Linked DNA regions of Homo sapiens. The protein of the gene in region 7 interacts with the protein of the main gene of each other region in a biochemical or structural test. Each region holds a gene or a part of one and is shown on either strand. Other genes may lie near its edges.

Evidence for each region.
Region 1: of the proteins of CTNNB1 (region 7) and UBE3A, one has a biochemical effect on the other in vitro, tested with the Homo sapiens proteins (3 studies listed by BioGRID).
Region 2: the proteins of CTNNB1 (region 7) and CHUK form a complex in vitro, tested with the Homo sapiens proteins (2 studies listed by BioGRID, with this or other methods).
Region 3: the proteins of CTNNB1 (region 7) and CBY1 form a complex in vitro, tested with the Homo sapiens proteins (2 studies listed by BioGRID and IntAct).
Region 4: the proteins of CTNNB1 (region 7) and EP300 form a complex in vitro, tested with the Homo sapiens proteins (3 studies listed by BioGRID, with this or other methods).
Region 5: the proteins of CTNNB1 (region 7) and TCF7L1 are reported together in a solved structure, tested with the Homo sapiens proteins (2 studies listed by BioGRID, with this or other methods).
Region 6: of the proteins of CTNNB1 (region 7) and CSNK1A1, one has a biochemical effect on the other in vitro, tested with the Homo sapiens proteins (2 studies listed by BioGRID).

What each region holds. Positions count from the first base shown.
Region 1 is NC_000015.10:25,354,989-25,359,487, reverse strand, and holds part of UBE3A (ubiquitin-protein ligase E3A), read left to right. Parts: intron 1-2,591; coding exon 2,592-2,797; intron 2,798-3,431; coding exon 3,432-3,596; intron 3,597-4,499. UniProt on the Homo sapiens protein: E3 ubiquitin-protein ligase which accepts ubiquitin from an E2 ubiquitin-conjugating enzyme in the form of a thioester and transfers it to its substrates.
Region 2 is NC_000010.11:100,219,157-100,223,655, reverse strand, and holds part of CHUK (inhibitor of nuclear factor kappa-B kinase subunit alpha), read left to right. Parts: intron 1-675; coding exon 676-790; intron 791-1,474; coding exon 1,475-1,544; intron 1,545-2,979; coding exon 2,980-3,068; intron 3,069-4,296; coding exon 4,297-4,386; intron 4,387-4,499.
Region 3 is NC_000022.11:38,662,609-38,667,107, forward strand, and holds part of CBY1 (protein chibby homolog 1), read left to right. Parts: intron 1-2,937; exon of another isoform or gene 2,938-3,077; intron 3,078-4,499. UniProt on the Homo sapiens protein: Inhibits the Wnt/Wingless pathway by binding to CTNNB1/beta-catenin and inhibiting beta-catenin-mediated transcriptional activation through competition with TCF/LEF transcription factors.
Region 4 is NC_000022.11:41,095,592-41,100,090, forward strand, and holds part of EP300 (histone acetyltransferase p300), read left to right. Parts: intron 1-4,499. UniProt on the Homo sapiens protein: Functions as a histone acetyltransferase and regulates transcription via chromatin remodeling. Acetylates all four core histones in nucleosomes. Histone acetylation gives an epigenetic tag for transcriptional activation.
Region 5 is NC_000002.12:85,282,912-85,287,410, forward strand, and holds part of TCF7L1 (transcription factor 7-like 1), read left to right. Parts: intron 1-583; coding exon 584-667; intron 668-4,499. UniProt on the Homo sapiens protein: Participates in the Wnt signaling pathway. Binds to DNA and acts as a repressor in the absence of CTNNB1, and as an activator in its presence.
Region 6 is NC_000005.10:149,491,949-149,496,426, reverse strand, and holds the end of CSNK1A1 (casein kinase I isoform alpha), read left to right. Parts: 3' UTR 1-3,445; downstream 3,446-4,478.
Region 7 is NC_000003.12:41,237,146-41,241,583, forward strand, and holds the end of CTNNB1 (catenin beta-1), read left to right. Parts: intron 1-870; coding exon 871-931; intron 932-1,988; coding exon 1,989-2,197; 3' UTR 2,198-2,514; coding exon of another isoform or gene 2,515-2,601; 3' UTR 2,602-3,298; downstream 3,299-4,438. UniProt on the Homo sapiens protein: Key downstream component of the canonical Wnt signaling pathway.

The DNA.
Region 1 (4,499 bases), on a different chromosome or scaffold from region 7:
GACCTTTCTGTTACTGTTCTTAGTCACACACACACACACACACACACACACACACACACACACACACACGCATCCCTTATCTATAATCTAGCTAGTGTTTTATTAATAACTAAAAAGCTATGCCATTTGTATGTAGTTTGTTCTAAGTAAATCAGAGATACATAAGACGACGCCCTTTTTGAGATAGAAAATTATAAACTTCATAAAGTTCTTAAATTTGGTAAACCTTAGCTCTAGCTTTTGATGTATCTAGAAATGTTAAACCTTAGCTATAAAGCATACTTGCATTATATGCAGAAATACTTGTAAGAAAAAACATAGATTAAGCAGTTCCAGTAAGATAACTGAAGTGATGGCAGTAGAAGTATCAAAAAGGAGTATTTTACCAGGAGGTTATGGTGCTTTTCTCCCTGGAACATGAGAAAATGTGCCTAAAATGGAACTTCAGAGTTATATTCTGATTAACTTATAGCTTGTTGCTCTTGGTTCCAAGGAAGGGCATTTGTGACATTTTATTAAATTCATTAATTTTTTAGACACACCATTGTCAGCTTGAACAAATTTATTAATTGTAATTATTTGTCAGCTGTTCTTGATCCTGTTAATACCATACTTATAACTAAAAGCATTTCCATGGATGTTGTAACTTGGCCTGTAAAAAAAATGTTTAGATAGAAACCATGAAACTCAAATATGAATTGTTTAATTTTCAAACCATTTTGCATTCAGAAAATGTCCTAAGCTTAATTCATACTCCTAGTGATCAAGGAAACATGTTAAAGCTCCTTATTTTTAAACTTAAAGTGACAATGACATTTTCAAAGATTTTAAAATTCTTATAAACAGGTTAAAATACTTATATACTGTATAATTTGATTTCTGATTTCTAAGCTCTACTTTTCTATTGGAAATTACAGATTTTTTTCAGACTTAATTCTTAAGATGTTTTCATTGTTTCACAGTAGCAACTAAACATGTAGTAAAATGATTTAAATTCAATTAAAATTTTTTTCCTTAGTCATTTAAAAGGGAAGAAATCAATTTTTAGTAGTACTCATTCCAAAGATTCCAATTTTCCTTTTTTTTAATCTTTTATTTTTTGGTGGAGGGAGGCAGGATCTGGCTCTGAGGCCCAGGCTGGAGTGTAGTGGTTCTGTCTCGGCTCACTGCAACCTCCACCTCCCAGGCTGAAGACTCAAACCATCCCCATGCATCACCCTCTCAAGTAGCTGAGACTATAGGCACATGCTACCACACCCAGCTTATTTTTTGTGTTTTTGTAGAGATGGGGTTTCTCCATCTTGCCCAGGCTGGTCTTGAACTCCTGAGCTCAAGTGATCTGCCTGCCTCAGCCTCCCCAAAGTGCTGGGATTACAGGTGTGAACTACCACACCGGGCCCCAATTTTCCAATGAGTGATATAAAAAAGGCCTCCACGCAGGCGCCTGTAGTCCCAACTACTCCGGAGGCTGAGGCCAGAGAATGGCATGAACCCGGGAGGCGGAGCTTGCACTAAGCTGAGTGCTGCTGCACTCCAGCTTGGGCGACAGAGCGAGACCGTCTCAAAAAAAAAAAAAAAAAAAAAAGCCTCCATGATTGGGGCTTGCATAGTGAAGACCATGTGAAATTGAAAGACTACGAAACTACTTTTCTTTTACGTATTGGCCCATAATTAACATGTGTATTGAATAGCTTTGTTTATCTAAGTTCATCAGATTTATCCAGGTTTATGTATTTCAGATCATCTGATTTTATTAGGAAAATGCTAGAAAAATTTCATGGCACCATTGTCTAATTTTGAAAAAACGAACCTTTCTTTACTGTGATTAAAAATTGTTTTTTAGGCCAGGTGTGGTGGCTCACGCCTGTAATCCCAGCACTTTGGGAGGCTGAGGCTGGCAGATCACGAGGTCAAGAGGTTGAGACCATCCTGGCAAACATGGTGAAACCCCTTCTCTACTAAAAATACAAAAATTAGCTGGCGTGGTGGTGCACACCTGTAGTCCTAGCTACTCAGGAGGCTGAGGCAGGAGAATTGTTTGAACCTAGGAGGCAGAGGTTGCAGTGAGCTGAGATCGTGCCACTCCAGCCCACCCTGGGTAACAGAGCGAGACTCCATCTCAAGGAAAAAAATGAAAAATTGTTTTCAAAAATAGTACGTGTGGTACAGATATAAGTAATTATATTTTTATAAATGAAACACTTTGGAAATGTAGCCATTTTTTGTTTTTTTATGTTTATTTTTCAGCTATGGGTGGATAAAGCATGAATATAACTTTTCTTATGTGTTAGTAGAAAATTAGAAAGCTTGAATTTAATTAACGTATTTTTCTACCCGATGCCACCAAATTACTTACTACTTTATTCCTTTGGCTTCATAAAATTACATATCACCATTCACCCCAATTTATAGCAGATATATGTGGACATTGTTTTCTCAAGTGCTAATATAATAGAAATCAATGTTGCATGCCTAATTACATATATTTTAAATGTTTTATATGCATAATTATTTTAAGTTTATATTTGTATTATTCATCAGTCCTTAATAAAATACAAAAGTAATGTATTTTTAAAAATCATTTCTTATAGGTATGTTCACATACGATGAATCTACAAAATTGTTTTGGTTTAATCCATCTTCTTTTGAAACTGAGGGTCAGTTTACTCTGATTGGCATAGTACTGGGTCTGGCTATTTACAATAACTGTATACTGGATGTACATTTTCCCATGGTTGTCTACAGGAAGCTAATGGGGAAAAAAGGAACTTTTCGTGACTTGGGAGACTCTCACCCAGTAAGTTCTTTGTCATTTTTTTAATTCAGTCTCTTAGATTTTATTTAAATGCAAAAATTTAATTTATGTCAAAATTTTAAAGTTTTTGTTTAGAATCTTTGTTGATACTCTTATCAATAAGATAAAAATGTTTTAATCTGACCGAAGTACCAGAAACACTTAAAAACTCAAAGGGGGACATTTTTATATATTGCTGTCAGCACGAAGCTTTTGTAAGATTGATTTCATAGAGAAGTGTTTCTAAACATTTTGTTTGTGTTTTAGTGAAATCTTAAGAGATAGGTAAAAATCAGAGTAGCCCTGGCTAAGGGTCTTGGTAGTTACAACGAGTGTGCCTGCTCCTACCACCCCCACCCCCACCTTGAGACACCACAGAATTTCTCATAGAGCACAGTGTGAATTCTATTGCTAAATTGGTGGTATGGGGTTTCTCAGCAGAGAATGGGACATCACAGTGACTGACAATCTTTCTTTTATAGGTTGGAAACTATTTGGGGGACTGGAGGGATACTGTCTACACTTTTTACAATTTTTATTGATAAGATTTTTGTTGTCTTCTAAGAAGAGTGATATAAATTATTTGTTGTATTTTGTAGTTCTATGGTGGCCTCAATTTACCATTTCTGGTTGCTAGGTTCTATATCAGAGTTTAAAAGATTTATTGGAGTATGAAGGGAATGTGGAAGATGACATGATGATCACTTTCCAGATATCACAGACAGATCTTTTTGGTAACCCAATGATGTATGATCTAAAGGAAAATGGTGATAAAATTCCAATTACAAATGAAAACAGGAAGGTAATAAATGTTTTTATGTCACATTTTGTCTCTTCATTAACACTTTCAAAGCATGTATGCTTATAATTTTTAAAGAAGTATCTAATATAGTCTGTACAAAAAAAAAACAAGTAACTAAGTTTATGTAAATGCTAGAGTCCACTTTTCTAAATCTTGGATATAAGTTGGTATGAAAGCACACAGTTGGGCACTAAAGCCCCTTTTAGAGAAAGAGGACATGAAGCAGGAGATAGTTAATAGCTAAGTGTGGTTGTAGTATAAAGCAAGAAGCAGGGTGTTTCTTGTATTAAGCTGTAAGCAGGAACCTCATGATTAAGGTCTTTATCACAGAACAAATAAAAATTACATTTAATTTACACATGTATATCCTGTTTGTGATAAAAATACATTTCTGAAAAGTATACTTTACGTCAGATTTGGGTTTCTATTGACTAAAATGTGTTCATCGGGAATGGGAATAACCCAGAACATAACAAGCAAAAAATTATGACAAATATATAGTATACCTTTAAGAAACATGTTTATATTGATATAATTTTTTGATTAAATATTATACACACTAAGGGTACAAAGCACATTTTCCTTTTATGATTTGATACAGTAGTTTATGTGTCAGTCAGTACTTCCACATTTTTGCTGAACTGGATACAGTAGGCAGCTTACCAAATATTCTATGGTAGAAAACTTGGGACTTCCTGGTTTGCTTAAATCAAATATATTGTACTCTCTTAAAACGGTTGGCATTTATAAATAGATGGATACATGGTTTAAATGTGTCTGTTTACATACCTAGTTGAGAGAACCTAAAGAATTTTCTGCGTCTCCAGCATTTATATTCAGTTCTGTTTAATACATTATCGAAATTGACATTTATAAGTATGACAGTTTTGTGTATATGGCCTT
Region 2 (4,499 bases), on a different chromosome or scaffold from region 7:
ATGGAAATTCTGTTTGCTTCTTTTTCTTTTTTTCTTTTTTTTTTTAAAAGAGATGTGGTCTTGCTATGTTACCCAGGCTTGACTTGAACTCCTGGGCTCAAGCAGTCCTCCCACCTCAGCCTCTGGAGTAGCTGGGACTATAGGCATGCGCCACCACACCCGGCTAATTTTTAATTTTTTGTAGAGATGAGGTCTCACTGTGTTACCCATGCTGATCTCGAACTCCTGGCCTCAAGCAATCCTCCCACCTCAGCCTCCCAAATTGTTGGGATTACAGTTACAACTACACCCAGCCTAGAACGCCAGATTTGACTTACTCACTGTGTGATCTTGTTACTTAGCCAATTTGTGCTTCAATTTTCTCCTGTGTGGTGAAAGTATTAATAAATCTACCTATAATAGGATTATTGTGACAAGTAACTGAGTTAATATATTTAAAATGTTTACTGCTTGGCACTTAGAAATGTAATAGTAGTAATAGTGATGGTATTTTTATGTGTGTTTTCTTTTAAAAAATTACTAATTTTTAATTATACAAATCAGAAATTAGAATATTATAAATAATACTGATCTTTCCCCCTCTGTTCATCCACCCACAATTAAGTAGCATTTCAAATCCAGTCCCTTTTTATTGGAAATAATTTTTTTTATTGTAATGTTTTTCTTTCTTATTAGGTTGAACCATGCCAATGTTGTAAAGGCCTGTGATGTTCCTGAAGAATTGAATATTTTGATTCATGATGTGCCTCTTCTAGCAATGGAATACTGTTCTGGAGGAGATCTCCGAAAGGTAGTGTGGATGTTTTGAGATGAGAGAGAGTAAATCACAAACTTTAGCAATGTTTGAATCATGTTAAATATAATAAACTAGAATAAGAATCGGAAAAACTATGGTCTGCTTCCTGTTTTGTAAATAAAGTTTTATTGGAACACAGCCACATTCATTTCTTTACACATTGTCTATGGCTGCTTTCTTATGGCTGCAGAAGTGAGTAGTTTTAACAGAGACTATGTGACTTGCAAAACCTAAAGTATTTACCATATGGTTCCTTACAGAAAATGTTGACTCCTGATTTAGAAAATGCATTTTTGTTGTTGCTGTTTGATGGGACTATAGCAATGGTGTTAGATGAAAATTTCAGTGGTTAAGGTGCTTATAAAAAGTTGTTTTCTGTATTGCAATCTTTTTTTTCTACCTAATTTTAAATGTGCCCATATGACCATTTTTATATATATCCATGAGATTTGTCAGCCTTTTCCAGTTTCAAATGCTTTTTGCCTCTTTTTACTTTTATGAGCCTTATCATGAAATTTACATGCCCTCAGTATGGATTTGGTAATTTTATTCCCTTGTATTTTATTATGACTTATTTTCTCATTTGAATATTCTTTTAGAGTATAGTAATTAATGTGTGGTCACTATTGCAGCCCAGCAATTTGCAGAACAGATTTTTAGATTTCTTTCTTTTTTTAGCTGCTCAACAAACCAGAAAATTGTTGTGGACTTAAAGAAAGCCAGATACTTTCTTTACTAAGTGATATAGGTACGTATCAGTATTAAAATACCATTGTAATGTAATGTCCCTTTGGCCCATAAAAGATCTTTTTGGGAATTCAGGAGAATTGTTGATACACTATACAAAGTCTATAGAATTTCAACATCTATAAGAAGTTATAAAAATCTATTACTATTGATGCTAAATTAAAACTAGGATATTTTGGCTAGGTGCGGTGGCTCACGCCTGTAATCCCAGCACTTTGGGAGGCCAAGGTAGGCGGATCACAAGGTCAGGAGTTCAAGACCAGCCTGGCCAACATAGTGAAACCCCATCTCTACTAAAAATACAAAAATTAGCTGGGCACAATGCCGCATGCCTGTAGTCCCAGCTACTCGGGAGGCTGAGGCAGGAGAATCGCTTGAACCCAGGAGATAGAGGTTGCAGTGAGCCGAGATTGCACCACTGCACTCCAGCTTGGACAACAGAGTGAGACTTTGTCACACACACACAAAAAGAAACTAGGATATTTTATTATTTATTTGTGGCTAAGAGTCCTTTTTTTGTCTAATAGATGTTCCAATAGCTGACAAAAAAATCATGTGAAATGACCTTACTCAATTTCTCTCCCCCCCTACCATTGACATAGTAATTTTGTTTACAGTGGAATTACATCTCCTTGAGGGATGGGTCCTCAAGTCAACTCTTTTTTGTTTGTTTGTTTTGAGACGGAGTCTAGCTCTGTTGCCCAGGCTGGAGTGCAGTGGTGCGATCTCAGCTTACTGTAACCTCTGCCTCCCAGGTTCAAGCGATTCTCCTGCCTCAGCCTCCCGAGTAGCTGGGATTACAGGTGCCCGCCATCACACCTGGCTAATTTTTGTATTTTTAACAGAGACGGGGTTTCACTGTGTTGGCCAGGCTGGTCTCAAACTCCTGACCTCGTGATCTGCCCGCCTCGGCCTCCCAAAGTGCTGGGATTACAAGCGTGAGCCACCGCACCCAGCCAAGTCAACTCTTCAGGGTGAAAAATCTCTGCTTAATCAGAATGACTCCAGAAAAATTCCTAAAATAACCAGTACCTAACCTTTTGGAGGAACCTCAAAAACCAAAAATTTGTTTCCCCATAGATTTTGGTTTTGCCTCTTTTCCAAGGTCATGAGGGCTAAAGTCCAATTGAAATGAGTGATTTAGGTGGGAGAAAGAGGCTTATAAGAGTTTCAGGGATTTTCCCAATTGCTTGTTGCATTTCTATTTGGTGTTAATTCTAATGAGTTAAATGAACATATAGTATAATTTTGTAGTATTTGTTTAATGTTACTTTTTTTTCTGTGAAGAAAACCTGGACACTGTAGTATTAGTTGTGTAGTTACGATGATCCATATAAACTTGAGCATCAGAGTAGATTTGTACAAAATGTGAGGTGAATTTTTCTTTTAACTCAATGATTTCTGTTACTTTAAAGTATATTTTAAACTTTATTTAGGGTCTGGGATTCGATATTTGCATGAAAACAAAATTATACATCGAGATCTAAAACCTGAAAACATAGTTCTTCAGGATGTTGGTGGAAAGGTAGGTGAAACCTGAAGTAATGTTTCATGCCTATTGAATATAGTCTCTCTGATATAGTTAGTCCTTGAGCTTTGGTGTCTTTGCTGTATGCCCATAACAGTCTTACTTTTTCCATTTCAGACCTCACCACACTGAACTGTAGTTTTGTGTTTAGTTTTTTTGTCCCTTCTGCTAAACAGTGGTTCCATCAGAGAAGGAACAGCACCTGCTTTTTTTTTCTTTTTCTTTTTTTTCATTTTTCATACTTAACCCAGCTCCTAGACTTCACCTGTCTTGTTCAAGTCTGTTTTTCCATCATAGTATCTAGCAAAGATACAGGCTGTGAATACATAATATGTTAACACTTATTATTTTATTCTTATGAAGCACATCCAAAACACATACATGCACATCCTGGGTCCACTTTAAGAAAAAAAAGAAAGTATATATATTTTTAAAACTTATTTTCCTTCCCCCAATTTAAATGAGTCATCTGGAGAAGAACCAGAAATTGTGAATTGACTCTTAAAATGTTCATTTCATTGGTAACTTAAGCAGTTTTCTTGTTTCCAGCATCCAAATTTCATTCCAATAAAGACTTAAAGGCCAAGAGTCTGAACCTTGTGTTGAGTTGTGTGTGCCGTCTCTTTAGTTAGTGAAAATAGTTGTTGGCCTCTTGGAGGTGTTGGAACCTTGGTGATGCCTCTTCTCTTAGGAACCTTTCACGTATGCTTGGCACCAAATATCTCTGCTTTTTTTTTTTTTAATCCAAAGACTTCAGGACATTCCTGAAGTTAGATCTAAGTATTTACTCACATTTAATCTACTATAAGGAGGTATGATGCTTCTTCAAGTTTGGAAGTCACCCTTGCCTTTACTTTCCAGTTTAATGGATTGAGCTTATTTTGAATATAGTAAAATAAAAATTAATAGCCCACCTGTATTCAATTTTTACCATGTACCAAGCACTGTGTTACCTTCTTTACTTTCGTTATTTCATTGGATCCTAATAACAATTCTGTGAAGCAGGGACTGTTAGTCATCCAATTAGATTACTGAGAGAGGTTAAATAACTTGGTAGATCACATGCCTAGTTAAGTGGTGGCACTCAGACTTGAAATATTTTTGTGTTATTACAGAGCCCAAGGTCCTCACCACTACCCTGTCTACAGCCTCGTAAGGATATTGTTGTCTTTCCTTTTTAAATTTCTCTACCATTTAATACTTAATCTGTCTTATTATTTTGCAGATAATACATAAAATAATTGATCTGGGATATGCCAAAGATGTTGATCAAGGAAGTCTGTGTACATCTTTTGTGGGAACACTGCAGTATCTGGTGAGACCTGTTTTGTTTCTTTGAATTTAAGTGTGTATAGGATTCTCTTATTTCTGAAGATCATGAATATAGTAGGTCAAAAATAAAGTAGCTTTTCCCATACAGTGTTGGTG
Region 3 (4,499 bases), on a different chromosome or scaffold from region 7:
GCCTCCTGAATAGCTGGGACCACAGGCGTACACCACCATGCCCAGCTAATTTTTTGTATCTTTGGTAGAGACAGGGTTTTGTTTGCCATGTTGCCCAGGATGGTCTTGAACTCCTGGACTCAAGTTATTTGCCTGCCTCTGCCTCCCAAAGTGCTAGGATTTATAGGCATGAGGCACCATACCCAGCCTGGGGTAGGCAAACATTTTAAAAATACAATACAAGCACTAATCATTAAGAAATAATAATAAATTGGGCTGGGTGCAGTGGCTTATGCCTGTAATCCCAGCACTTTGGGAGGTCAGGAATTCAAGACCAGCCTGGCCAACATGGCGAAACACCATCTCTGCTAAAAGTACAAACATTAGTTGGGTGTGGTGGCAGGCGCCTGTAATCCCAGCTACTCAGGAGGCTGAGGCAGGAGAATTGCTTGAACCCAGGAAGCAGAGGTTGCAGTCAGCTGAGATCACATCACTGCCCTCCAGCCTGGGCGACAGAGTAAGACTTGATCTCAAAATAAATAAATAAATAAATAAATAATTGGATTTCATTATAATTAAGAACTTCTGGCTGGGAGCTGTGGCTCACACCTGTAATCTCAGCACTTTGGGAGGCCGAGGCAGGTGGATCACGAGGTCAAGAGATTGAGACCATCCTGGCCAACATGGTGAAACCCCGTCTCTACTAAAAATACACAAATTAGCTGGATGTGGTGGTGCGTGCCTATAGTCCTAGCTACCTGGGAGGCTGAAGCAGGAGAATCGCTTGAACCCGGGAGGCGGAGGTTGCATTAAGAAAGCAAAAAGAGGCCGGACGCGGTGGCCCACACCTGTAATCCCAGCACTTTGGGAGGCTGAGGTGGGTGGATCACCTGAGGTTGGGAGTTCGAGACCAGCCTGACCAACATAGAGAAACCCTGTCTCTACTAAAAATACAAAAATTAGCCGGGCGTGGTGGCGCATGCCTGTAATCTCAGCTACTTGGGAAGCTGAGGCAGGAGAATCACTTGAACCCGGGAGGTGGAGGTTGCGGTGTGCTGAGATGGCGCCATTGCACTTCAGCCTGGGCCACAAGAGCGAAACTCTGTCTCCAAAAAAAAAAAAAAAAAAGGAAAAAAAAAGAAAGCAAAAAGAGGTCGGGCGCAGTGGCTCATGACTGTAATTCCAGCACTTTAGGAGGCGGAGGTGGGTGGATCACTTGAGGTCAGGAGTTCGAGACCAGCCTGGCCAACATGGCAAAACCCCATCTCTACTAAAAACACAAAAATTAGCTGGGTTTAGTGGCAGGTGTGTGTAATCCCAGCTACTTGGGAGGTTGAGACAGGAGAATCTCTTGAACCTGGGAGGCAGAGGTTGCAGTGAGCCAAGATAGCACCACTGCACTCCAGCCTGGGTGACAGAGCGAGACTGTGTTTCAAAAAAAAAAAAGAAGGAGAAAGCAAAAAGAAAAAAGTGGGAGAAGATATTTTCAGTACTGTACATATATACAGTAGTGAAACTTGTATCCAGCGTATATAAATACCCTTACAAACCCTTACAAAATGAACATGATAGACAGCTCAATTTTAAAAAATGGCAAAAGAGGGCTGGGCGCGGTGGCTCATGCCTATAATCCTAGCACTTTGGGAGGCTGTGGCGGGCAGATTGCTTGAGGTCAGGAGTTCGAGACAAGCCTGGCCAGCATAGCGAAACCCTGTCTCTATTAAAAATACAAAAATTAGCTGGGCATGGTGGTGTGTTCCTGTAATCCCAGTTACTCGGGAGGCTGAGGCAGGAGAATCACTTGAACCTGGGAGGCAGAGGTTGCAGTGAGCTGAGATTGTGCCACTGCACTCCAGCCCGATGACAGAGGGAGACTCCATCTCAAAAAAAAAAAAAAAAAGCAAAATACATGAATAAGCATGCCACAAAAAAATCCATATATGTCCAAGGAGTATGTTAAATGATGCTCAACTTAATTAGTTATTTGGGAAAAGCAAATTAAACAATGCAACACCATTACATACCTGCCAGAATGGAAAAGATGAAAAAGAAAGTGCCAGATATTGACAAGGATCTCTTGCAAACTACAGATAGGAGTCTAAATTGGTACAATGACTTTGGAAAACCATTTGGCAGAATCTGTTAAAGCTAAATATATGAATGCTCTGTGACTCTATAGTTATACCCCTAAGTATGGAACCAGAAAAGTGTACATATGCATGTAGATATACATGCTCAAGTCTTATGTTCTTAGCAGTAGTTTTTTTTTTTCTTGAGACAGGGTCTTGCTCTGTTGCCCAGACTGAAGTGTGCAGTGGTGATCACAGCTCACTGCAGCCTCAAACTCCTGGGCTGAAGCAATCCTTCCACCTCAGCCTCCTGAGTAGCTAGGACTACAAGGGTACACCACCACGCCTGGCTGATTTTTCAATTTTTTGTAGAGATGAGGTCTCATTATGTTGCCTAGGCTGGTCTTGAACTCCTGGCATCAAGTGATCCTCCTGTCTTGGCCTCCCAAAGTGCTAGGATTACTGGCATAAGCCACCATGCCTGGCCTAGCAGCACTATTTTTGGTGGTCAAAAACTGGAAACAGGCCGGGTGTGGTGGTTCATACCTGTAATTCCAGCATTTTGGGAGGCTGAGGCAGGCAGATCACGTGAGCCCAAGAGTTCAAGACCAGACTAGGCAACATGACGAAACTCCCATCTCTATTAAAAATGCAGAAAATTAGCCAGCATGGTGGTGCGTGCCTATAGTCCCAGCTACCCATGAGGCTGAGATGGGAGGATCACCTGAGCCTGGGAGGTTGAGGCTACAGTGAACAGAGATGGTACCACTGCACTCCAACCTGGGGGACCAGAACGAGACCCTGTCTCAAGAAACACAAAACAAAACTGCAAACAGCTCAAATGTCCATCTTCTGTAGACAAGTAAATTTTGCTGTGTTTATACAATAGAATATTATCCAGCAATGCAAATGAACAAACTATAACTACACACAGCTGCATGGATAAATGTCAGAAACATGACGTTGAGTGTGAGAAGCCAGATGCAAACGAGGACTCACTGTGCAATTCTGTGCATGTACAGTGGCCAGGTGAGGCTTATGGAGTGCTGAAATGCTCTGTATCCCAATCTGGAGGGTGGTTTTAAAAAAATGTTTTGAGCCAGTGCGTTGGTTCACACCTGTAATTCCAGCACTTTGGGAGGCCAAGGTGGGCAGGTCACTTGAGGTCAGGAGTTCGAGACCAGCCTGGCCAACATGGTAAAACCCTGTCTCTACTAAAAATACAAAAATTAGCTGGGCATGGTGGCACACACCTGTAATCCCAGCTATTTACAAGGCTGAGGCACAGAGCAGGGCTCTGTCTCAAAAAAAAAAATCATAAATAAAAAATAAAATTTAAAAAATACTTGATTTTAATTTTTTTAGAGATGGGGGTCTCGCTGTGTCACTCAGGCTGGTCTTGAACTCTTGGGCTCAAGCAATCCTCTCACCTTGGCCTCCCAAAGTGCTGGGATTTCAGGTATAAACCACCACGCCTGGCCCTGGAGGGTGGTTATACTTGTGTAGTAAAAACTCATGAAACCTTACACTTATGATTTGTGGTAGACTTTTCTGTATTAATGTTATATATATATATATTTTTTTTTCTTTTTTAACCTTTTTTTGGTAGAGACGGGCCCTGCTAAGTTGCCCAGGCTGGTCTTGAACTCCTGTGCTCAAGTAATCCTCCCTCCCTGGCCTCCCAAAGTGCTAGGATTACAGGTGTGAGCCACTGCTCCCAGCCTAAATAAAAAGTTTGCTTCTCCCCTCCTTTTCTCCCCAAAAACCAGGGTGTTATCAGGAAATCTACTTAACTAGGCCTAGGTGAATTGCAATAGGTTGCATTATGCTAAAAGCAAATGTACAGGTTGGGGGGGTGTTGTTGTCAGCTCCGCCATGTCGTGGACCTGCCCCCTTTTCAGGACACCTCACGTCACCTTCCATAACAGAACAGGTAACGTGACATATGAGGTGCACTGTTGACAAGTGACACTGGTGACAAGTGAGGAGCACTGTTATCAATCTGGAAAGGAAATATAAGCATAGCTTTACTCATTTATTTATTTATTTTTTTAATTTATTTTTGAGACAGAGTCTTGCTCTGTCACCCAGGCTGGAGTGCAGTGGCGCAATCTCGGCTCACTGCAACCTCTGCCTCCTGGGTTCAAGCAATTTTCCTGCCTCAGCCTCCCAACTAGCTGGGATTACAGGCACCCGCCACTATGCCCAGCTAATTTTTTGTATTTTTAGTAGAGACAGGGTTTCACCACGTTGGCCAGGCTGGTCTCAAACTCCTGACCTCTTGATTTGCCCGCCTCGGCCTCCCAAAGTGCTGGGATTACAGATATGAGCCACCGTGCCCAGCCATTTCTTTCTTTATTTTTTTTTTTTTAGAGACAGGGTAATGCTCTTTGACTCAGGCTGGAGTGCAGTGGCATGATCATAGCTCACTGGAGGCTCAGACTCATAGGT
Region 4 (4,499 bases), on a different chromosome or scaffold from region 7:
TAACTTTTATTGGAGGCACATCACCTCTTAAAACTTTTAAGTTTCAAACTTGTAACTTTTGATTTTTGAGTTGTCACTTGGGTATTTTATAAATGTGAAAGAAAATTATTTCTTGATATTATGGTTTTTGTCTAGAACTGGTTGAAATAAGCCCGAAATTCTAGCACCTAAAACTTTTTTAAAAAAAGTGATTTAGGCTTGCAAATTTCGTGATGTAAATATATCCACCAAGAGCGTTCTAATGTCAGCTTTAAAGGAAAGAAAACTGGAATCCAATGGGATGACATGCTAAAGTGTTACAAATCAAATTATTACTTAAATCTCAACCTCTGAATTGCTGTTTAATACTCAGATATTCTCCTAAAAAATTTCCAGGTTGATTCAAATAACTTAGGTTAAACTCAACTTTTACGTGTTGGGATGGGGAAGAGAAGACTTATTTGTAGCCTTCACACCTTTATGTTCCTGTTTCAGTATTTGCATTTGATCCATTGAAATTTTTATTTCATTTGGTATGGTTAGGGTAAAACAAATCATTTGAGAAATGACATTTTGTTCTCCCTCTCCCTCCAAAAAAAAAAGATTATGAAAGCCACTTGTAAACTTTTTTTGTAAAAATGACCAAAAGACTGGAAAAGTTAATGTTAGGCAAATCCTGGAAATATCTTTTGGAGCTGTTTCTGATCATCTTGAGTGATGGAAATGATGAGGGTCATCTGTTGTCTTCATTACTCAGTGAACACGTTTTGTCACTGCTTGGTAAACGCTTAATGCCGTATGCACTTAAAAAGCACCTGGAAAGATAGGATTTTAGGATCTGGCATATAATTAAGTAGGGTAAAGATCCTTCTGGTCTTGGTACAGTTTTGTGGCCCTGGGTTTTGTGCTTTTTTGTTTTTTGAGTTTTTCCCCCATTTCAAAGACACAGGGCAGATAGTGTGTAAAGTATACCTGCTTTTTGACCAGTAGATTAATGTACACAGTGGAGAAGTGGTAAGGCTTTTTAAAATGTCAGCTCTACTTTTTTTTTTTTTTTTTTTTTTTGAGACAGAGGTTTGCTCTCGTTGCCCAGGCTGGAGTGCAGTAGCTCGATCTTGGCTCACTGCAATCTCAACCTCCCAGGTTCAAGCGATTCTCTGCTTCACCCTCCTCAGTAGCTGGGATTGCAGGTGTCCACAACCATGCCCAGCTAAGTTTTGTATTTTTTAGTGGAGACAGTATTTCACCATTTTGGCCAGGCTGGTCTCGAACTCCTGACCTCAGGTGATCCACCCGCCTCAGCCTCCCAAAGTGCTGGGAATACAGGCGTGAGCCACCATGCCCGGCTGTCAGCTCTATTTTCTTAAAATGCCATTGTGTTAGTGGTTCGTCATCCTAACCAAAACATTTTGATCAAGACCATTTATTTTCCAGCTCTGTAACTTGTGATATGCTATGTTTTATTTTATTTTGGCTTGAATGTTTACATAAGAGTTTGCTTCTGGAGTCTTGCAGATATAGCTCCTGATTTAGTGAGGCATTTCTCTCCTCAGTATTAAATTGCAAAACATTTTACTAAAGTGCTTTAAGTTTTTCTGGCAATTATTCTCAAGGCCTTGTAAGTTCATTTATAGGACTTCAAGAAGGTTGTCTCTGGTTGATAGTGAGATAAAGTGACTTTTAAGTTGTAAATCTTGAATGCGTTACAATATGGGGGTCTTATTCCAGCAGGAGTTCATCTTCTATAGCAGAGGTTGGAATTGTATTGGCATGTCCAGTGAATGGATAATAGGGAGGAGGGAGGAAAGGGTTTCTGCCTTGGTGGCCTTTTGGCATTATTTTGTGTTTTTCTTTGCTTTTCTCTCTCTTCTTTATTTAATAAAAACAAAAAAATGGAAACAGTTGAAAATTAATGCAAAGTGGTATTTGTAGGGACATTAAGTGGTAAATAGGAAAGAGAAAAAGAGTAGGAAGAGTGTTGCAGATACAAGTGGGAGTGTAAAATACTTTTTCCTGGTATATTTACAAAAACAATTTGAGAGTTATTCTGCCAATTCATATACCCAGCAATTAATGGAAAAGTAAAAGATGCTAGTTTTATGTTTGTCCAGATTTTAGGGTTTCCTTCTTTGAAGATTTCTAAAGTTGAATATTTTTTTAAGTGAGGCAAGCAGTAAAATTAATGGGCAAATGAAACCAATTATACCAAGTCTAAAATTTTTCTTTTTTTTTTGAGGCAGAGTCTCGCTTTGTAGCTGGGACTACAGGCGCCTGCCACCATGCCCAGCTAATTTTTTGTATTTTTAGTAGAGACGGGGTTTCACCATGTTGGCCATGATGGTCTCGATCTCCTGACCTTGTGAACCTCCCATCTCTGCCTCCCAAAGTGCTGGGATTACAGGCGTGAGCCACCGCGCCCAGCTAAAAATTTTTTTTTTTTTTAATACTTTTAAGTTTTAGGATACATGTGCACAACGTGCAGGTTTGTCACATATGTATACATGTGCCATGTTGGTGTGCTGCACCCATTAACTCGTCATTTAGCATTAGGTATATCTCCTAATGCTATCCCTCTCCCCTCCCTGCTAAAAAATTTTTTAACATTGAACTTCGCAGGTGATTTTTTTTCGCTTAATAGACGGTAGTTTCATTTTGAAATTTTCATGGGAAATTACTGCTCACTTTCCCAGAAGCGCTTAAGAGGATAAATAATAATTGAGGTGTTAAGCCTCTTCTGAGCAATTTGGATATAATTTGTTTTTAGATCTAGATTCTTTTTTATAAATGTCCCAAAGCAATTAGAAGTGATTGTTTTTTTTGAGACGGAGTCTCGCTCTGTCGCCCAGGCTGGAGTGCAGTGGCGCGATCTCGGGTCACTGCAAGCTCCGCCTCCCGGGTTCAAGCCATTCTCCTGCCTCAGCCTCCCGAGTAGCTGGGACTACAGGCGCCCGCCACCACACCCGGCTAATTTTTTGTATTTTTAGTAGAGACGGGGTTTCACCGTGTTAGCAAGGATGGTCTCCATACACTGACCTCGTGATCCGCCCACCTCAGCCTCCCAAAGTGCTGGGATTACAGGCGTGAGCCATAGCACCTGGCCCTAGAAGTAATTTTGTTGAGAGAGAGAGAGTAAAACTAAAAGTACTGAAAAGAGTAAGAGAGTAGCTAAGAGAATGAGTATTGGAGTCAGACTGCTAGAGTTCATAGCCCAGGCTTGTATTTATTAACTGTGAACTTTGGGCCAAATACTTAACCTGGCTCAACCTCCTCACATTTATTCCTAACCACAGCCCTGTAAGGTGGGTGCGCACCTTATAGGAATCCACCTTACTTACCCACCTTACAGGATTGTGGTTAGGAATAAATGAGAATTCTCTTTATCAGATGCTTAGGACTATGCTTGCTTCTGTGTAGTATGTGTTCATTGTTAACTGTTTTTAACTTTACTGCTAAATATATCAGAAGGAAAGCAGTGGTAGATGGTTTGGGGGTTGTTTTTGTTTTTTTGATTTGCAACGAAGTCTTGCTCTGTTGCCCAAGCTGGAGTACAGTGGCGTGATCTCGGCCTATGACAACCTCCGTCTCCCGGCTTCAAGCGATTCTCCTGCTCAGCCTCCGGAGTAGCTAGGACTACAGCTGCGCAGCACCATGCCCGGCTAATTTTTGTATTTTTAGTAGAGACAGGGAGTCCTGACCTCGTGATCCACCCACCTCGGCCTCCCAAAATGTTGGGATTACAGGCATGAGCCACCGCGCCCGGCCTGTTTTTGTTTTTCGTGGATATACAGTAGTCCCCCCTTATCCTTGCGGGATACATTCCAAGATCTCCAGTGGATACCTGAAACCCTGTATAGTAGTGAATATAATTGTCATCAGTCAGAACACGTTTCTGTCCGTGTCTTCCACACACAAATTTAATGCCTTTTCCATCTTAACTAATCACTTGTCATGCACTGTGGCTGTGATGTTTGCAGTTTGAGGTACAACAGCAAAACTATCACGAATTTTTTTCCTTCACAATTTCATGTATAGATTTGATCTTTGTAACCTCCGCATACAATTTTTTTTCATTCCTTATTAAGTCAAGAACTTTCACCTTCAAGCAATTTACAGCTTCTCTTTGGCATATCCATATAGCTGTCATTGCTACTTTTGGACTTAGGGACTGTCATTAAGTAAAATAAGGGTTACTTAAAACTCAAGCATTGCCCTGCCCCATAGTCAGTCTGACAATCTGATAACTGAGATGGCTACTAAGTGACAAATGGCTGGTAGTTTATACAGGTGAATACATTAGACGGAGGGGAGATTCACTACCCGGTCAGGTGAGATTTCATCAGGCTACTCAGAATGGCGCACAGTTTAAAACATTGTTGTGGCTCACGCCTGTAATCCTGGCACTTTGGGAGATTGAGGCAGGAGGATTGCTTGAGGCCAGGCATTCAAGACCAGCCTGGGCAATGTAGTGGGACCCCCCATCCCCCCACCATCTCTAGAAAAAAAATTTAAAAAGTCAGCAA
Region 5 (4,499 bases), on a different chromosome or scaffold from region 7:
TTTCAGGGTTGAGAGACGCTATAATGAAGGAAAGCTCAGCATCCTTGAGTTGGGGTAGATGTTGCCCATGACTCTGTGTCAGGCAGATGGCTTTTATTCATTCATTCCCAGATACTTCTGGATGGCTGTTTCGTAGGGAGCATTGTGTGTGGATGTCGTAAGTGATGGAAATGGATGGGGCAGGATGGCCATCTGGGAGCCTCTGCCTCCTTGGTCAGCCCTGCGTGTCCATGACTACAGCATAGGGAGGGGACTTGAGCCTCACTAGTAGGTTCTTTGAATATGTTGATTGGTTGTGCTGGAATGGATCGGTTCTCTCCACCACTTAAAGTTCAGCTTAGTTGTCATTCGTGTCCCCCCCCCCAAAATGACATAGGGCGTGGTGAGGCTGGTAGTGATTGTAAATATATGCTCGCTCCTGTTATAATCGTTTGGAAATTGACCCAGTACAGGGCATGTGGCATGAAAATGCAGGCCACCCCAATGGCCTGCCCCGGTGCCCTAACAGCAGAGCCCAGCAAACTTTGAGTACTTGTGAGGCCTCATCTCACCAACAGCTTTTTCTTTTCTGTTCCCTGTGCAGTACCTGCAGATGAAATGGCCCCTCCTCGATGTCCCCTCCAGCGCCACAGTCAAGGACACGAGGTCACCATCTCCAGCACACTTGGTAAGTCTGTTTCACCTTAAAGCACCAAAGGGCCACTATTAGTGGCCTCATCCCATGCCACTGCCTTCTGCCATCACGCTGAAGCAGATGGGGTCCAACAGTGTTTCCTCAAATGTGTGAGTACAGTGAGGAAGAGCTGAGTGCTTGGGGCTAACAATTGGGTTGTGACCTCAACACACACACCACACCGCCTCAGATGTTTTGTAATTGGAATAGCCGTCCCCCAACCCCCATGGCCCTGGCTGCTCACCCTGGTTCATCACAGAAGCCTGCCTGCGATCCTTCCCGGCTGCCATCTGAACCCGCTGCCCACTTCACGTGGGCAAGGGTGGCTTCTCTGTCCTGTTGAGGCTTACCCAGAATTGCCTCCTCTTCTCCCTCATAGCTGCCAGGCAATAGTTGAAGAGGCTCTTCTGTTTTTGTTTTTGTTTTTGTTTTTGTTTGTTTTTTGAGACGGAGTCTCGCTCTTTTGCCCAGGCTGGAGTGCAGTGGCACAATCTTGGCTCACTGCAACCTCTGCCTCCCAGGTTCAAGCGATTCTCCTGCCTCAGCCTCCCAAGTAGCTGGGACTACAGGCATGTGCCACCACGCCTGGCTAATTTTTGGTATTTTTAGTAGAGACGGTGTTTCACTGTGTTAGCCAGGATGGTCTCGATCTCCTGACCTCGTGATCCGCCAGCCTTGGCCTCCCAAAGTGCTGAGATTACAGGCATGAGCCACCGCGCCCGGCCGAAGAGGCTCTTCTGTACAGGATGTTATAGGAAAGAATTCAATAGGACGTATGCAAACAAATGCTCCTCAGGGCAGCCGAGCCTCTTCTGCCAGGCCCTGTGGCAATACCAGCTGGAAAGGAGGGTCTGGACAATCCTGGGAGACAGGAGCAGTGGATCCAAGCAGTACCTCTGGCCTCCTCAGGACATGCAAAGGACTGAAACCCAAAGCTGATAAGAGATGCTCCTGGAACAGAACCAGATATCCTACTTTCCTGGGCTTTTCCTGGGTGCTTGGGTCAACACTTGCCTTAAGATGCACTCACCCCACAAGCTAACTGGTGCTCGCCGACTGTACAGTGAGCCTCAGAATCAGGGAATGCGGTTAGAAGGGACCCTCATCCTGCATGACCTATGCATTTTACAGACGAGCAGACATAGGACTTCACTGTTACTGCCCTGTACTAGGTATTAGGCGTTGGGCTTCTATGATGTTTATTAAAGTTTAATTACAGAAAATTTTAAAGATGTATCAAAGTAGAGAGAATTACATAATGAATCCCCATGTTCCCTTCACCCAGAATTTCCCTCCTGCTACATAGGGGATTTAAAGTGAATCCCAGACATTACTTCATCTCATAGGACATTTTAAGAGATACTGATAGCTGGGCGCAGTGGCTCACGCCTGTAATCCCAGCACTTTGGGAGGCCGAGGTGGGCGGATCACGAGGTCAGGAGATCGATACCATCCTGGCTAACACGGTGAAACACCGTCTCTACTAAAAATACAAAAAATTAGCCAGGCGTGGTGGCGGGCGCCTGTAGTCCCAGCTACTAGGGAGGCTGAGGCAGGAGAATGGTGTGAACCCCGGAGGCGGAGCTGATAGTGAGCCGAGATCGCGCCACTGCACTCCAGCCTGGGTGACAGAGCGAGACTCTGTCTCAAAAAAAAAAAACTGATAATTCTTATTCATTAAAAGCTTAGAGTCTAGCAGAAGAGAAAGAAGATATGTGCAGAAAGCTAAATAAATAAGGGTGCAGGGAGCCTGTATGATTTCCAGTAATCAGGAGACCTGCTCCTGTGGAGCCCTTGGGAGTTTACAGTGGGATCTACAGTGGGATGCCACATGCAGCTCTCAGGTGATTGTCACAGCCATCACCAGGGAGTCAGGCAAGGATGACAGTGGAAGGAACCGTGAGTGCGGGACCAGCCATCCGGGAAAGGCAGCAGGTTCTGCAGCCAGTCGCCAAGGCACAAGCTGCTGTTGAACAAGCACTCCACACCTCAGGCATAAGCCAGGGTAGTGGCTTTGGCCCAGAGTCCCACTTGGGATAGCCAAGCACGAGGCGCGGGTGCCCTCTAGTGGTGCCAGTCAGCCCTGGTGGAGGATGTGCGGACCACATCTGCCCACCCTAGACCTGGCTCGTGCCCTGCACCTCCCCCCAGTGCAGCCATCTCTGTTTCAGATCTGTGCCTTCCTCTACCTCTCCTGTGCCGTCTGCCAGCCCACTCCTGAAGACCTGAGATGGCTGGGTCCTCTGTCTTAGTTTCTCTCTGCATATTGTCGCATCTCCATCTACTTTTCAAGAATGTTATTTCCCTTTAAAAACTAACACATGAGGCCGGGCGTGGTGGCTCACGCCTGTAATCCCAGCACTTTGGGAAGCTGAGGCAGGCAGATAACCTCAGGTCGAGAGTTCGAGACCAGCCTGACCAATGTGGAGAAATCCTGTCTCTACTAAAAATACAAAATTAGCCAGGCATGGTGGCGCATACCTGTAATCTCAACTACTCAGGAGGCTGAGGCAGGAGAATCGCCTGAACCCGGGAGGCAGAGGTTGCAGTGAGCCGAGATTGTGCCATTGAACCCCAGCCTGGGCAGCAAGAGCAAAACTCCATCTCAAAAAAAAAAAAAAAAAAATCGGCGTGGTGGTACGCGCCTGTAATCCCAGCTATTTGTGAGGCTGAGGCAGGAGAATTGCTTGAACCCAGGAGGTGGAAGTTGCAGTGAGCTGAGATTGCACCACTGCACTCCAGCCTGGGCAACAGAGCAAGACTCTGTGACTCAAAAAACAAACAAACAAAAAAAAAAACTAACATATAGTGGCCAGGTATGGTGGCTCATGCCTTTAATCTCAACACTTTGGGAGGCCAAGGAGGGAGGATTGCTTGAGGCCAGGAGTTTGAGACCAGTCTGGGCAACATGGTGAGATCTCTACAAAAAAGACGGAGTTTTGCTCTTGTTGCTCAGGCTGGAGTGCAATGGCGCGATCTTGGCTCACCACAACCTCTGCCTCCTGGGTTCAAGCGATTCTCCTGCCTCAGCCTTCCAAGTAGCTGGGATTACAGGCATGTGCCACTATGCCCGGCTACCTTTGTATTTTTAATAGAGACAGGGTTTCTCCACGTTGGTCAGACTGGTCTCAAACTCCCAACCTCAGGTGATCCACCCTCCTCGGCCTCCCAAAGTGCTGGGATTACAGGCGTGAGCCACTGCGCCTGGCCAAAATTTTTAAAATTAGCCAGATGCAGTCATTCACACCTATAGTCCCATTTACTCAGGAGGCTGAGCTGGGAGTTCGGAGCTGCAGTGAGCCATGATTGTGCCACTGCACTCTAGCCTGGGTGACAGAGTGAGACCCTGTCGTGAACAAAAAAACAAAACTAACACGTGTACTCTGAGTTTCCCATTCTTCCTTTTGCACAGAGCAATCCTCTGAGAAATGAAAGAAAAACCCTGTGTTCAGCCTTCCTGTTCCTGTGAGCACCGTCCTGTTTCTTTTTTATTGTTTACCGCCTGACTTCCCACACCTCTGTCACCTCCTTTATTCTGCCACTCCACTGCAGCCCGGCTTAGCGCTTCAGTCACCATCGAATAACTAACTCCACTCATTTTCCTGCTTTTTTGCAACACAGCCGACAGCCAAGGCCTGACTACTCTCTGCTTCCTGTAAATCTTATCATTGACTCCAAGATACTGTATTAATACACATAATCAGTTGTTTGTCTTTTTGAAGCTTCCATTTTCTTTCTAGACTTTTATTCAAATAAATCAACTCTTCATCATCACTTATTCCTCTCAATGTTTGTGACAGAAAAAATATATAAAATCCCATCAAGA
Region 6 (4,478 bases), on a different chromosome or scaffold from region 7:
TCACAATTGTGCATTCTTAGGGTTTTTCCATCCCTGGGGTTTGCAAGTTGTTCACTTAAAACATTCTTAAAATGGTTGGCTTCTTGTCTGCAAGCCAGCTGATATGGTAGCAACCAAAGATTCCAGTGTTTGAGCATATGAAAGACTCTGCCTGCTTAATTGTGCTAGAAATAACAGCATCTAAAGTGAAGACTTAAGAAAAACTTAGTGACTACTAGATTATCCTTAGGACTCTGCATTAACTCTATAATGTTCTTGGTATTAAAAAAAAAGCATATTTGTCACAGAAATTTAGTTAACATCTTACAACTGAACATGTATGTATGTTGCTTAGATAAATGTAATCACTGTAAACATCTATATGATCTGGGATTTTGTTTTTATTTTGAAATGGGAGCTTTTTTGTTTACAAGTTCATTAAAAACTAAAAACTGTTTCTGTAAGGAAATGAGATTTTTTTTAAACAACAAAAAATGCCTTGCTGACTCACTATTAAATAAAAATCTCCCCAATTTTTTGATAGACTACTTCAAGCCATTTGTTACATGGTATTCCTTTGCAAGTCAATTTAGGTTTCGTGTTATAACTTTTCCTCTTTTTTTAAGAAAAATGAAAAAAGTAATTCTTTTGTCTGAAGGGGAAAGGCATTCTTTCATTTTTTTCTTTTTTTTTTTTTTTTTTTATGACTTGCAGGCACAATATCTAGTACTGCAACTGCCAGAACTTGGTATTGTAGCTGCTGCCCGCTGACTAGCAGCTGGACTGATTTTGAATAAAAATGAAAGCATTAAAGGGTTTCCCTACAAAACATTTTTCTTTAAAATACTTTTGAAATGGCTATAAGCAGTTGACTTTCACCCTTGGAGAGCATCACACTGTGTGAGGTTCAGTGATTGTTGACCCTCCCCAGCCCCTCCTGCTTCTTTAAGTTATCTGTGTGCGTGCGCTTCCTCTCAATCTTCTTTGCACGCTCATTTCTTTTTCTCTGACCCATGAGAAAGGAAAACTTACTGATGATAATTTTTAAATAGTGTAATTTATTCATTTATAGCATGTCAGGATAAATTAAAAGAACATTTGTCTGGAAATGCTGCCGGGAGCCTATTGTGTAAATGTAGGTATTTTGTAAAATAACCTTGAAATTGTAAATTGACACGTGTTTGGTCAGATTGTGTCAAGTTTAATTTGTTTTGTTTTCTTTTTTCTTTTTTTTATTTGAAAACTACTTTAGCAATAATTAATTCCATGATTATCACATTCTGCCATTAAGGGATATTAGTACCGTAATACTGAAGAAATTTTATTAAGTCTGAACTTCTGGGGTAGGCAGCTTCTTTGTTTCTTTTCTATCCACCCTTGTCGGTTGAGGTATTTGTTTCTTGACTAATAAACCCTTTGATACTTTTAGCCAGAAATCAGTCTCATAAAGCTATTTTTGAGTATAGTTTGTGTAAAATAAAAATGTTTAGCTTTGGTAATAACTTCCAAGCTGAACTCCCTCTAGCAAGATATTTTTCAGTGCTTTTATTTACTATGCACTTAGACTATGCACTTTTTCTGAAATATTTTTGTAACACTTTTTTGTATTTTTGCCATTTGAAAAGGTTGTGGTGTAGTTGGTCTGTAATTAAGTTGCAGATTTAAAACTGCTGTTAGCTTTGTAAATCAAAATATAGGTGTTTTTTGTCCTGGTATATCGTCATTCCATCTGCAGCTGGAGCTGGAATCCCATTGATCTTCTAGCTACCATTCATTTTCTTCACTGTTCACAAAAGAAGAGTGTGAAATTCAGTGAATGCTGTTACTAATCCTGTTACGAGATGAATCTCATTTCACCAAAATTAAATTATGTTTTTCCGCTAAAATGATGATACAAGTTGAAGACACATCACTCTGAAATTGGAAGACCTCACCACTTAAGGCTCCACAGTGGCTTACTCAGCTGAACTCTAGGTTACTACTCTTTACTTTGTTCACCCATTGGGGGGTGCAGTTTTTTTAAAATGTTGGGAGATGGCCATTCTAACTACTGTTGAATGTCTCTGTTTTGGGAAGGTATAACAAGAAATAAAAAAGAATATATATGAAGGGAGAGACTGGTTATCTCCTCCCATATGGTTGTGCTTATCCTCTTATGGCTTACAAATGAATATTTGGAGGTTTGCTTTCACAATGATTTCCCATCAACAAATATTTTTAGTAGGATTTTTCCTGTTTCTGTTAGTCCTTGCAGTACTCATAAATGTTTTAAGCTGAGCATACTGTAATAGTCATAAGTTTAATTTCATTATAATAAAAATAATCAAACAAAAGGACTTTAGAACCCAAGACAATGAGCTAGTTTTCCCTAAAGTTTGCTGAACTATTAAGGAATATGTTCTTATAGCTTTTGACTAGAATGAGTCATGGGAATTCTAAGAAGGGATGGCCTAGACATTTTTAGCTCAGTTAAATTCAGCATTTAATGCAGGTGAGTTCCTGGGTCGTTTTCCAACTAGTCTGGAACAGTCTGGTTCTGACTCAAACTGGTATAAAGCATTATTTTAGGTTTTCTCTTTGCCAGTTTTTAAGCAGTTATAACCATGTAAATCAAGATGTGAGGACATCTATATGAAGTATAGTAAAGAAGTGGTGTCAGCAGATCAATATGTGTGTCCTGGGTGTGCTGCTCTCTTAAGTGAGACTTTGTGAGACTATACTTTAAATGCATTATTACCATTGCTTACATTTTGGGGGATTTTCTTCCTCCTCAAAACTTCCATTTCTATTGTAATATTCTTAATGACAATCTTTTTTTTTTTTTAGCAGTGTATGTTTGAAACAGCCAAAGATGGCGATGAACCAAGTGTAAATTGATCTAAGCAGCCCATGCAGTTTGTGTTGAATCAACAAACAGTGTATTGTTGAAGTGAAATTATTTTCTGAAATGACTTGTTAGACCAGTTTTGAGGACATACTCAAAAGTAGAGTAATAATGGCTCCTGGGATGGAGAAATATGAGATGAACCTGGAACATTCTATTATGGTGCCACAAAGGAAATCTAAAAAAAAAAAAAAAAAAAAAAGTGGTTGGCTAGGAGCAGTGGCACACGCCTGTGATTCCAGCACTTTGGGAGGCCGAAGTGGGCAGGAGTTCAAGACCAGCCTGGCCAACATAGTGAAACCCTGTCTCTACTAAAAATACAAAAATTAGCCGGGTGTGGTGGCGGGCGCCTGTAATCCCAGCTTTTCAAGAGGCTGAGGCAGAAGAATCGCTTGAACCCGGGAGATGGAGGTTGCAGTGAGCTGAGATCGTGCCACTGCACTCCAGCCTGGGCGTTGCAGTGAGACTCCGTCTCAACAACAACAAAAAGGTGGATACATGTCAAAAGGGCACAGGAGCCACTTGAAGGATTATACTTGCTAAATCTGTGTCAATTATCAAAATAAACTGGTAGCAACGTTACAACTCACTGAATAAGATACCATGATTCCATGTTGACTTAAAAATGGAGAGAAGAGAAAGCTCTAACTTGAATGTCAGCTAATTTAAGGTGAAAGGATTTTATGTGTTAGAAAAATCACCATTTTGCAAACTAGTTTTCAGAATCCTTAATATATGTCATCTCTTTTATTCCTCATAACAGTAATAAGAAACAGTTAACTGTTTCAGAAAAGAGTGGGGCTGCCCAAGGCAAGGCATGTTGGTAATTGGTAAGCTTTATAGAGCCAAGACCTCAACCTGATTTTCTTGCTTTCATGCAGTTAAGCCATGGTGCTCCTCTTGTTATATCACCCTTTTAAACCCAGAGATTGATAGTATTAGCCATCATTTGCTGAGTGTCATGCACTATTCTAAGTGCTTTACATGTATTTGCCTAATCAGCGCCCTGTGAAGTACATCCTGTCTCCATTTTGCATATAAGGATACCAAAGCACAGAGTTGGAGGGAAGATAGTTATATTCCCTTACTTTATTTATTTATTTTTTTGAGACAGGGTCTCGCACTGTCGCCCAGGCTTGAGTGCTATAAGACCTTAAGTTTCCCCTTTCAAAGTAGTTTATAGTGTCTAAATATCTTACATAAAAGTATATATCAAATAGGGTGGCAGTCTGGAAAGATTTAAAATCCAGAATGACTGGAAGGTTGGGCAACTAAGATTTCTTAAATTGCAGCTGTTTTCAACATAGATGTGTTGTAGAGTCTTTTCGGTTTCAAAATTAAATTGACTATAAATGGAGTGTGCTTAATTCAGATCTAAAAATTTTGGAATTAGAATATTGGGTGCTTGGCTGAGTGCTGTGGCTCACGCCTGTAATTCCAGCACATTGGTAAGCCCAGGTGGGCGGATCACTTGAGGTCAGGAGTTTGAGACCAGCCTGGTTAACATGGTGAAACCCCATCTCTGCTAAAAATGCAAAATTAGCCGGGCATGGTAGTGCACGCCTGTAGTCCCAGCTACTTGGGAGGCTGAGGCAGAATTACTTGAACCCAGGAG
Region 7 (4,438 bases):
TTCTAATAAAACTAGAACATCCTGATATTTTATCCATTCTATAGAGATCATTGATGGTACACAGACATACAGTGGATTATGTTTGTTGAGTGAATGGAAAGAGAGATTGTTAGGTTTACAACGATGCAGCTCTTGAGACCGGAGTTTAAGATCAGCCTGGGCAACATAGTGAAACCCCATCTTTAGCTGGGCATGGAGATGGATGCCTATAGTCCTAGCTACTGGGGAGACGGGGGCAGGAGGATTGCTTGAACCCAGGAGTTAACAGACTGCACTCAGTGACAGAGCCAGACTCCAACACAAAAAAAAAAAAAAAAAAAAAGCAAATTACCAGTGAGTAGTGTGTTACTTGGGTTTTTAATAGGCATCTTATTAACATGTTCCAACTTGAGCCCTTAACTTTCTCCACCTACCCCCTTCCACAAACCTGTTTTCACTGTCTTCTCTGTCTTAGTTAATGTCAGCTTTGTCTGTCCAGCTGCTCAGGCTAAAACTTTTCTTTCATATAACACATCCTATCAGCAGCTCCTGTTTGTGGGTAGGCATTTTGCCTTTTTTTTTTTTTTTTTTTTTAAACTGCTATATCTCTAGCATGTAGAACAGTGCCTGGCAGCACATAATAGGTGCTTAATATAATATTTGTTGAAAGAACAAGTCAGTGAGTATTTTTAATGTGAGGTGCAAAGAGAAAAAAAAATGTATCTTTGAGGTGTGGAGTTTTGAAGAACTTCCATTTTCTAAGCATTTGTGTAATGTTGGAGTTACTTGTTCCTTTTGTAATCTGAAAGTATGCTTTAAAAAAAATTAGTGTACTTTTGAGAATTTTCATTTTGCTTTCTATTCTTCCTTGCTTTGTGCATGTTTATCTAGACTGCTGATCTTGGACTTGATATTGGTGCCCAGGGAGAACCCCTTGGATATCGCCAGGATGGTATGTGTCTCATATTTCTCGATTAACTCCAGATCAAGCTAAAGTTCTAAAACTTTTATCAGAAGAGCCGGTTTGCTCATCTGGGAAACCAGTGTTGGCAGAAAAGTAGTGGCTTCAATTAAAAGCAGTTCTTAAATTCCAGTCAGCAACAGTATCTTTAATGGAGCACAGGGAATTCAGAGCCACACAATGAGTAGCAGTAGGATTACACCACCAACAAATACATGCTACTGCTAGGCCTCTGCAGTGCAGGATGTTACAATTTACCTGGCTTTTTATTCTCTTTTTGGCCAGAGGACTCATAATACCTTTGTCTACAAGCTACCCAAGGAAGATAGGAAAACTCCTGTTTCTAGGCTCAGATCTCGGGTGGGTTTTTACATAGTTGCATTATCATCAGGGTTTTCTTGAAAAGCTAATTTAAATCTGGGTAATGAACATGGAGGATGGCATAGACCACTAACAATTATAACTGTCTTACATTTATAACCGCATCTGCTTCTACCTAATTATGAAACCACTAAAGCGCAGATTCTTACTGTGAGAAATAACATGTCAACCCTAAGATAAAATATGTTGAGGTTTCATGGAAATAGTGCCTTTCCTTAGTACTTTTGTGGGTGTCACTTGGCCTTTTTGTCAAGATAGATTACACCTGCCAGACCTCATTATTGTCTTAATCCTCCTTCCCATGACTTCTCACTGCCTAGGTGGTCACACAGTAGATTCCTGCTTCTTCTCCTCGGGAACCCCAAGTCTCTTGACAGGGGTAAATGCAGAGTGTTCAGGGTTAGACTAATGATGTGACTAGGCCCTGCTGGTGTGCCTGTCTGATGGAAATAGATGTTATTTGTGTAGTCTCATGGGTGGCCTGGCACTGAGTAATTACTTGGCTAAAGAAAGCTGGAGGTTGAAGAGGCTAGAAAGCGTTGTTTTCTGACAAGTTTGCTGCTGAACTTTGGATGCCCTAACCTCAGTGTTAACGTCTATGTCTGCTTCTCTCCTCTCTCTTTTGCCTTCCTTCTTGCCTATTTTGTTGACACCCTGACTCTTCTAGATCCTAGCTATCGTTCTTTTCACTCTGGTGGATATGGCCAGGATGCCTTGGGTATGGACCCCATGATGGAACATGAGATGGGTGGCCACCACCCTGGTGCTGACTATCCAGTTGATGGGCTGCCAGATCTGGGGCATGCCCAGGACCTCATGGATGGGCTGCCTCCAGGTGACAGCAATCAGCTGGCCTGGTTTGATACTGACCTGTAAATCATCCTTTAGGTAAGAAGTTTTAAAAAGCCAGTTTGGGTAAAATACTTTTACTCTGCCTACAGAACTTCAGAAAGACTTGGTTGGTAGGGTGGGAGTGGTTTAGGCTATTTGTAAATCTGCCACAAAAACAGGTATATACTTTGAAAGGAGATGTCTTGGAACATTGGAATGTTCTCAGATTTCTGGTTGTTATGTGATCATGTGTGGAAGTTATTAACTTTAATGTTTTTTGCCACAGCTTTTGCAACTTAATACTCAAATGAGTAACATTTGCTGTTTTAAACATTAATAGCAGCCTTTCTCTCTTTATACAGCTGTATTGTCTGAACTTGCATTGTGATTGGCCTGTAGAGTTGCTGAGAGGGCTCGAGGGGTGGGCTGGTATCTCAGAAAGTGCCTGACACACTAACCAAGCTGAGTTTCCTATGGGAACAATTGAAGTAAACTTTTTGTTCTGGTCCTTTTTGGTCGAGGAGTAACAATACAAATGGATTTTGGGAGTGACTCAAGAAGTGAAGAATGCACAAGAATGGATCACAAGATGGAATTTATCAAACCCTAGCCTTGCTTGTTAAATTTTTTTTTTTTTTTTTTTAAGAATATCTGTAATGGTACTGACTTTGCTTGCTTTGAAGTAGCTCTTTTTTTTTTTTTTTTTTTTTTTTTGCAGTAACTGTTTTTTAAGTCTCTCGTAGTGTTAAGTTATAGTGAATACTGCTACAGCAATTTCTAATTTTTAAGAATTGAGTAATGGTGTAGAACACTAATTCATAATCACTCTAATTAATTGTAATCTGAATAAAGTGTAACAATTGTGTAGCCTTTTTGTATAAAATAGACAAATAGAAAATGGTCCAATTAGTTTCCTTTTTAATATGCTTAAAATAAGCAGGTGGATCTATTTCATGTTTTTGATCAAAAACTATTTGGGATATGTATGGGTAGGGTAAATCAGTAAGAGGTGTTATTTGGAACCTTGTTTTGGACAGTTTACCAGTTGCCTTTTATCCCAAAGTTGTTGTAACCTGCTGTGATACGATGCTTCAAGAGAAAATGCGGTTATAAAAAATGGTTCAGAATTAAACTTTTAATTCATTCGATTGTGTCACTCTTTCTTTTTTTCTTGTCATTAATAAATGGTTTGTGAGGGTGGTAAGTAAGTTTATCCAACTCAACTTTATCCTGAACTTTATCCTGAGATAGATAGATACATAGTGAAGTAATTTGTTGTAGCGATAGAGAGGGCCCTACTTCTCTAGATGCAATTTGCCAAGTTTCTTTAGCATTTGGCCCTGGATTACGCTGGACCCCTAAAAAAGTGTTTCAGCCTTGCACATTGTGATTAGTTCTGGGCTTTGGTGGGAGAAAGCCAAGCAGACTATCCATCTATCTATCTCTACCCCAATCCCCCTCAGATGATTTGATTCCATTAAAGTAATGAAATAAATAGTAACTACCCCTACCTGGATTTGGATTTGAATCACCTTCACCCAAGTGTGACTCATTGGGAGAGGGGAATTCCTTCAACTGGACTTTGAACTAATAATAATTAAATAAATTAAATAGGTTTAAGTGTTGATGTTTATCTGAACATAATCAGAACCAGAATGAGCCTTCCACAGTACCTGCCAGATGATCCTATCATCCCGGTGGTAGGTCTGACAAGCTTAGTTCATCTCATCTCTTCAGGTAGACCTGTTTGTTAAGACTTGTGTTTTGGTCTTTTAAAAAGTAAAAGAAAGAAGTGTTTTGTCTTTAGGGAGAGCTCTTTCTGATTTACTGTTTTTATTTTGATGATGATTGATAGTGACTATTAATTATGAGAAAAACATACATTCAGTTCTTTTTCGTTAAAAATCAGCTTCATCTGGGGAGGCCTTTTTGTGAATGCCCTTGCTTTGCAAAAATGAATTCATTGTGGTCTAAAATGTAATTAGGGTTTGAAAAGAAACATTCACATAGCTGATGATGTGGTAGGTCTCAGGTTCTGTCTCATGTGTGATAAACCAAACCAGCCAGTATTTCAAGAAGCCTAGGGCTATTGGTAGGTTAACACCGTGAAGATCTTCAGTGAATTCAGCTTTTAACATAAAGAGCCACCGCACGGTGTTTCAATTACAGAAAGAACAACTTTTTAAAACCAGAGAATGTTTTCAGAGCTTTGCTAATTCATTGTATTTTATTTTTGAAGTTTAAAAACTTAATGTGAGAGTTAATCCAGTTCAACAAGGTGGCTCT